Linked DNA regions of Homo sapiens. Changing the gene in region 2 together with the main gene of any one other region gives a genetic interaction. Each region holds a gene or a part of one and is shown on either strand. Other genes may lie near its edges. The genes, in order: KAT2B and ONECUT1.

Region 1 (3,814 bases), on a different chromosome or scaffold from region 2:
AGACCTCAATTTATACTTTTCAGCTTTTTCTTAACTTCCAAGATTAATCTTATTTTGTACTCTGTTAAATTCACTGTAGATTAAGACAATGAGGCTGAGTCAATGTGTGTGTGTGTGAGAGAGACAGAATGTGTGTGTGTGTGTGTGTGTGTGTGTACTTCTGGTGTTGTTTTAATAAATTGATTGATATTATTATTGCACACAGTGAGACAGAAAGAAGGAAACGGACGTGCATGAGCACATGTATTCCTCCAAAGAAGTAACTGTAGAAAAGATTTTACCTACATGACTGATTTCGGGTCTACTAAAAAGAAGCAAAATGATAGTTCGTTCATTTTTGTATGTCTAATAAAGATGGTATTTGCATGCTATTTTCTTACTGTTCAAATAACTCCCAGATTTTTCACATCATGATGATGATTTGTAACTTCTGTGAACAGAAATTAAAAATGTGAACACAGAAGACCATGTCATTCTACTGACTTGCTGAACTGAAAATCCTGTGGTTTTCAGGAATAAACTGATCTGCCCTAGTTCACAGGGACTGAGGCCCAGTTACTTAATTAAAGTCCAGACTAGAAGTCAGATCTCCTGTTTCCTAGTGTTCTTTCCATGCTTCCTGATAAATCTGTTCTAGACTTACATGTCTAATAATGAATGCTCAGTATACATGGCAATAGGCTGTACATCATAGAAGAATGGCTAAATAAAACTGTTTCCCAAAAACAAGTTAGTTCTAGCTAACTTGCTATGTATTCTTTTTCTTCTTCTTCTTCTTTTTTTTTTTTTTTTTTCAGACAGGGTCGTGCTCTGTCACCCAGGCCGGAGTGCAGTGGTAGGATCATGGACAGCTCCAAGCAGCCTTGACCTCCCGGGCTCAAGCAATCCTCCCACCTCAACCTCCAGAGTCGCTGGGACCACAGGCTCATGCCACCACAGACACATGCCACCACACCCAGCTAGTTTTTTATTTTTATTTTTGTAGAGATGAAGTCTCATTCTGTTGCCCAGGCTGGGCTCAAACTCCTGGGCTCAAGCGATCCTCTCGCCTCAGCCTCCCAAAGTTGCTGGGATTACAGGCATCAGCTACTGCACACAGCCACTCTGTATTCTTATGAAACATCTCCCCAGTGTGGGGGTAAGCTTTAACTTTCAAAAGTTCTACACAATTCAAAATCTAAGACTAATTACTTGCACTTTCCTTCAGCAGACTGTTGGACAGTTGTATTTTAAGAAGTCATAATCCTGTGACACTTTCTTTTTAGGTTATTTCTTCATGGAATTAAATAGTGTACTATCATGAAATTCAGGAACTTCAAAATATTTGCCCACATTTTTTTCTATAACCACAATTGCTCCTGGGAGTATATATAAGGTACAGTTAACATACACTTATGTAACAATATTTAGGTTGAGCAAGGTGGCTCACGCCTTTAATCCCAGCACTTTAGGAGGACGAGGTAGGCAGATCACCTGAGGTCAGGAGTTCGAGACTAGCCTGGCCAACATGGTGAAACCCCATCTTTACTAAAAATACAAAAATTAGCCAGGCATGGTGGCACGCACTTGTAATCCTAGCTACTTGGGAGGCTAAGGCAGGAAAATCGCCTGAACTCAGGAGGTGGAGGTTGCAGTGAGCTGAGTCGCGCCACTGCACTCCAGCCTGGACAACAGAGTGAGACTCCATCTCAAAAAAAAAAAAAACAAAAAAACAACAAAAAAAGAATACTTATATTTTTCTTTTCTTCAGAACAGAGAAGTAATTTAAGCAGTACTACTGTTCAGTCTGCTTTTAATTTTTATGGAATAAATATTTACAAGTTAGCTCTGTAATGAACACAATCATTTTCTAAGTCCAGTCTTTTCCACAAAGAATCCTGTTTAACTTCATTTTCAGACTGATATACTGCAAACATTTTCGGCACATCTTTGTTCTAATATTTACAGTAACTGCTGTAAGTTATAAGCTGAACCAGCGTTATAGGTCCTGAGGTTCTCTTACAGCAACATCAAGATAAAGCCTGCTGGTGCCTGCAGCCAGTAATATTACCCATTTTTGAGAAGATCAGTATCAGTGAGACATCATGCTGTGGTGGTATGTGGTTTTTTTAATTCCCCATGTGGTCATGGCAGTGAGGTTTTACTCCGAATATTGATTCTCCTAATTTTCACAGGTTGTTCCTCTCTACTTCCCTTTCCTCATCAACATGACGTGATGGTGGGGACGTGGGGGAGGTTGGTGTCATCTACCTTCATTTCCTTATTTATTATTAATAGGGGCTATTGGTCTACATTTCACCTAGAAATCAGCACGTTTCAGAACTCATTAGGGCATATTCATTTCTGTTTCTCTCAGCAAGTTTCTCTTTCCCATTGTCTGACTCCACTTTTTGCCTTCAGCTGTTGGCTCAGGAGGCTGGGCTATAAAGGACTCTTTTGCTGTTTTTCTATTCCCTGCTATCTTAATTTCTAAAGCGATATTCAAATAATTACACACTCACTCAATTATACATTTAAGGCTTTAGCTTAATAAGCTCCACATTGGCAGTGACTGAGTTTTAGAGAACAATGTGCATGGGAGGAAAATGATGATGAGCATCTTCCCAGCACCTGCTCTGTGTGTCAGAAACTACATACAAACCACCCATGGAATACTCACAAAAGTCATGACACTTGGACAGAGAAAGAAACCAAAAGTCTCTTTAGACCAGAGACTGGTCTAAAGCTCATGTAAAAAGGGAGAGATGGACCCACACCATTCAAACCCAGCACTCATCCAAACCAATTTCCATTTTTACTACTTCTTAAGTATTCATAAGTGCCACCAATTTCTTAGTAATTCTCAAAGGCTGCCTTGCATTTTTCTTCTGTTTTCTAAAATATCATAGCTGGGCACAGTGACTCACACATGTAATCTCAGCACTTTGGGAGGCCAAGGTGGGAGGATTGCTTGAGGTCAGGAGTTTGAGACCAGCCTGGGCAACACAGCGAGACCCCATCTCTATAAAAAATAAACAAATAGCCAGGCATGGTGGCATGTGCCTGTAGTCCCAGCTACTAAGGAGGCTGAGATAGATGAATTGCTTGAGTCTAGGAGGTTGAGGCTACAGTGAGCTATGATCATGCCACTGCGCTCCAGCCCAGGATACAGAATAAGACACCATCTCTAAAAAAAATAAAAATAAAAATAAAACAAAATATACTAATGTCTCCCAAGCTGCTTCACAATTAATTCTCCTTTTTCTTGATGAAACGATTATTTTCTCTGCTAAAAGTCGCAAATGCATTCAGGGCCCTGGCTTTGACAAATATTCAGCTTTGTCAATTGTTCACAGACGGGATTAAAAAATACATATTTTTGAGAGACTTATCGTCTCAACTCTTATTATAAACAAGAGTTTCAATAATATAGCAGAGTTTCAATAATACAGAACTATTGTTAATGTAAAATCCTAAAATGAAAGATACGGAAATGAAGATATAATTTAAAAACTTATTTTGAAGAAATCTGCAATTCCTATAAATATCAATTATTAAGGAGAAAATACTTTATAACTGAAATTGCATATATTTGCAAAAGTGAAGAGAAAGAGAGGAAAAGGGTGTGTTACACATGAAACTAGGTCAATGTCAGAGAGGAAAGCTTATTTTAAATTATACAATTCTTCCATGTTATCTGCTGTTACAGAAAATAACCTGGGCACAAGTGGTCTTGACAGGCTATCAAAAGATACTACTGCCCACTTTAAATCAGGAAAAAAGTAGGCACTAAAGCTCCCTAATGCAAGCTTGATGTGCCTCTGAAATATAAACA
Region 2 (3,814 bases):
CCAGCCTGCGATTCGTGCCCCGAAGCGACCCAAAGCGTTCTTTGGGTTTGGGCGCTGCAGGCCACCGGTCCCAAAGCACCGCGCTGGCTGAGACTCTGCCCTGCCAGGTTTTCCAGCCCAGCTCTGCCTTCGTTCGCCCCAGGCAAAGTCCTCATGCAGGTTCCTGCAGCCTGCGCCCGGGAACCAGTCAGGGGAGAAGAGGCTCGCTGGGCGCCCCAGCGAATCGCTGGCCCCCGGTTTTCCACTCTCTAGCTCTTGTGCTACCGGCACCATATCTCCACCCGTGGGCTGCCCGCGAGCAACTGAGGTTCCGGAGGGAGTGGGCGAAGGGGCTGCTCCTCGTCCTGACTGCTCCGTCTCTCCAGAGCCCAAGGTAGTGCCTTTTCACACACCCACACCACCCCAGAGCCAGGCTTCAGGGCCTCTTACCCAGGCAGTGCCCGCTGAAGCCAAAGAGTGGAGCGGGGGAATGTGGGAAGAAGATAGAAATGGAGAAGGCTACCCCTCCGGGAAAACTCGGTCCCCATCCCCCACCCCCGCCCCCTGGAGGCTCTTGCTCTGGACTTCAATATCCCTCCTCCCCCCACTGCCTGCTGTCGCCCCCTGGAAGGACAGACTGACACGTTCTGTTCAGAGACGACCTCTGAGCCATGGAAACCTGGCCGCAGGAGCGCCCTCTGACCTCCAAGCGTGGAGAGCTACATAGCCGAGCTCAGGGGACGGCACTGTGGAGGGGGAGGGAGCCTGAGTGCTGGGACCCGCACGCTGGAGGCGCAAACATGGTGCCTGGCAGGTGCTTGTGGCACCCAGGAGGCTATCGAAGGAGCGCCTGCCTGGGCACCCAGCAACCTGTAGAGGTCCATGCAGCCCTCGGCCCTAGGCCCATGGCCTTTTCCTCGAAAAAGTGAAACACTGGAGAGTCCAGCAGGGCAGGCATTTGGCACCAAACACCAAGCCGACTCTGTGTCCTGAGACCCTGAGGAAGCATGTCTATTACATTTTTGTTTCCTTAACTTAAAAGGGATGGTGGAAAGGGCTAGGACTGAGGATTCTGTGTTGGTCCAGGAGGGTCTCCTGCAAGGAACCAGGAACAGTCTCTTCACAACCTATTTTTAAGTTACTGAAGAAGGAGCCATCTCATTAACATTTTCATATTTTAAAAAGAGTGGGGTTATTTTCTGAACTTTCCAAATGATCTCTAACGGGCCAAGTGCATGAGCCTTAAAATGGATTGCAGAGCGCCTTGGCCGTTCCTACGGGACATTAGTGCCTGCCCCCCACTACCAGCTCCCATATGGGGAGGTGCCCCTGGCAGCTTTCCTTGCTGTTGCGCTCAGAGACCCTCCCCAGTCTCGTTCCAACCACCTTGCGAGGTCAGGGCTCACTGAGCTCGGTTCCTTCGCTCCGCAGCGGGAGAGTGGTGGCTTCTCCACGCCCCTCTGTCCTCCAGTTGCCGGCAGCCTGTTGCAGAGGGTCAAAACCCTCTTGCACGTGGCGCTGTGTTTGGGGAGGCGCCTTCCGGTCACGAAATAACAGCGGCTGGTGGAAGAAGGGCGACAGGAGGAAATTCCCACCAAATTAACTACCTTTTAAAAATCAATATATGTTCCCTCCATGTACTACTTGCTGCTGCCCCATTAAAGAGCAGAGCGACAGGGTTCTCGCCGCGTCTCCTCCGGGATGAGGCGGGGGGTGTGGGTGGGTGGCGCGCCTCTGACGTGGGCGTCTATCAAGACCAAGATTAGTTTCCAATTAAAGATTCCAGAGGGCTTCGGCCACACAGCAGGAGCTGCCGGCTCGGAAAGAGACAGCGACACACACCCAACAGCAAGCGCAGCACCGCGGACCCAGGGGAAGGCGGCGCGCAGGCCCGAGGTTCGGGCGGGGGTGGGTGTTGGGCACTCCGACCCTGCCCTGCGGGACTTGGAGGCGAGGAAACCTCCAAACCCCGCGGGGGAGTTGGCGGCGCCCCCTTCCCGTCCGGTGTTTGCCCCAGAACGACCTAAGAAGGACCTGAGCCAAGGGGGGAGGGGTTCGGTCGGGGGGCGGCCATGAGAAAGTCTCGCCCAGCCCAACCTGGGCTGTGTTTGCCCTGAGTGGCCTTGCGGCCTGGTTGATTGATAACTGGCCCCTGCACAAGTCCATTTGCTTTTTTGTTAATATTTATCCCGGGGTGACATTTCAAATGTCCCCCTGCTTTTCTGGGCCATGGGAGTCAGGCAGGAGTGCGGGGCCCTAGGCAGAGCCCTTCAATCCTTGAAGACTTCTGGGCCGGGAGAGAAGCCAGGACTGGGCGTGTGGGACGCAGGAGCTGGAAGCGTTCCTGGGTCCAAGAGTTGGGGGAGAAGGAGTCAAGCGCAGCGGTTTCCTCGCGCTTCGCGTCTTGGCGCTGTGGGTCTGGTGTCGCGCAGCTGCTCCCAGCCCGCTGCGGCGCGAACAAAGGGCCAGCAGGGCGCGACCGACCGTGTCCGCCTCTGAGCCCGGGGCGAGGGGCGCCGCCAGCTGGGAGCGCCTCCTCCGAAGGCCTAGGATGGCCTCCTACGGAGACCAAGGAGTCCCAGAGCCCGCCAGGCCGAAAAGTGGCAGTGCATCCCGGTAGTCAACTGGGGACCCTCACACACACACACCTAGCCGACTGCAAAACCAAAAAAGGTCTCGCTCCTGCGGACAGTCACCAGAAGGCTCTGCGTGGTGCCTGTCTCACGGCCGGTGTCTGTCCCCTCGAGGGTGTAGGACCATAGTTCCCCCTGTGTAGTTCTCTCTGTGTAACGGGCATAAACCCGGGTGAGGAGAGGGAGGTGCGCTTGGGGATAAGAAGTGGGCTCGTGGCGACGACTGGAACCGCTATGGCTGGGGCAGGGGAAACCTACTTCTGGGGCTTAAGGGGGGCTGATGGCTATTGTGTGGCGACCTTGGTGTCAGCGCAGCTAGGATGCCTGCCAGAGACGAACTCCACTACCTGTTCGGAGGTATGCGGCTATCCCGTCAATGGGTGCAGCACCTATCGCCCTGGAAGCATCCGGAGAGGGATCCCGGTAGCTGGGGCGACCAGCCTGACCCAGGGCACAGCGGTTGCTAGAGACCCAGCCCCGACATCGCCGCTTACCACCGACACTTGGGTCGGACAGTGCCAACAATAGCACGGTTGTGTTGTAGCAGCAGAGGACCCAAATCCCAGGATGCGCCTCTCCTTATCTGCAAGCCTCGAGCCCTCCGCGCTCCCTGCTTCCCTCCATTCGGCTCCCTTTCTGGGGGTAGCCGGGCTGTGCTGCGGCTGCGGCGCGCGCCCCCTGCGGGCCGTCGGGGCTGGGCGACCCGCGAGCGTCCGTGGTTCAGCCCGCGGCAGCGAAGAAAGGGATGCTTGCTGCGCCTTTGTTTTTAGAACGTCGTTGTTCTAGTGAATTTCAAAACAATAACTATTTTGATAGGAAGAAAGTGTGAAGGAGGAAGAGAAGGATATCTAGAGGGTCTGTCGGGGTACCTAACAATGCCTGGGTGTTACCCAATTCATGAAAACAAAATTCTCATCTTCCGAAGTACACCTCAGCTCTAACCTCCCCAAAAAAGATGCGTACTTGGATTTTGTATCCGAAGTATGCTTTTGTTGGCGTGTTTTCATTTAAGAAAAGCGGGGTCAGCGTAGAGAAGGTGACCCTGGCGGTCCGAAGTCGGAGGTTGGAGCTGAGGGATATAATACCCGGCGGATTGGCGGTTCCTTTGTTTTGTTGTTTCCTCTTCCTGCAAACTGACCGGAGTCAGGAGGCAGCCCTGAGGCCTTGAGCTGAGAAGTCTTTGTTTCCTCTTGTGTGGGGTG

What was found.
Region 1: of ONECUT1 (region 2) and KAT2B, changing one enhances a phenotype caused by changing the other (phenotypic enhancement), as found in Homo sapiens cells (one study listed by BioGRID).

The regions. Positions count from the first base shown.
Region 1 is NC_000003.12:20,102,781-20,106,594, reverse strand, and holds part of KAT2B (histone acetyltransferase KAT2B), read right to left. Parts: intron 1-3,814. UniProt on the Homo sapiens protein: Functions as a histone acetyltransferase (HAT) to promote transcriptional activation. Has significant histone acetyltransferase activity with core histones (H3 and H4), and also with nucleosome core particles.
Region 2 is NC_000015.10:52,783,566-52,787,379, reverse strand, and holds part of ONECUT1 (hepatocyte nuclear factor 6), read left to right. Parts: intron 1-3,814. UniProt on the Homo sapiens protein: Transcriptional activator. Binds the consensus sequence 5'-DHWATTGAYTWWD-3' on a variety of gene promoters such as those of HNF3B and TTR. Important for liver genes transcription.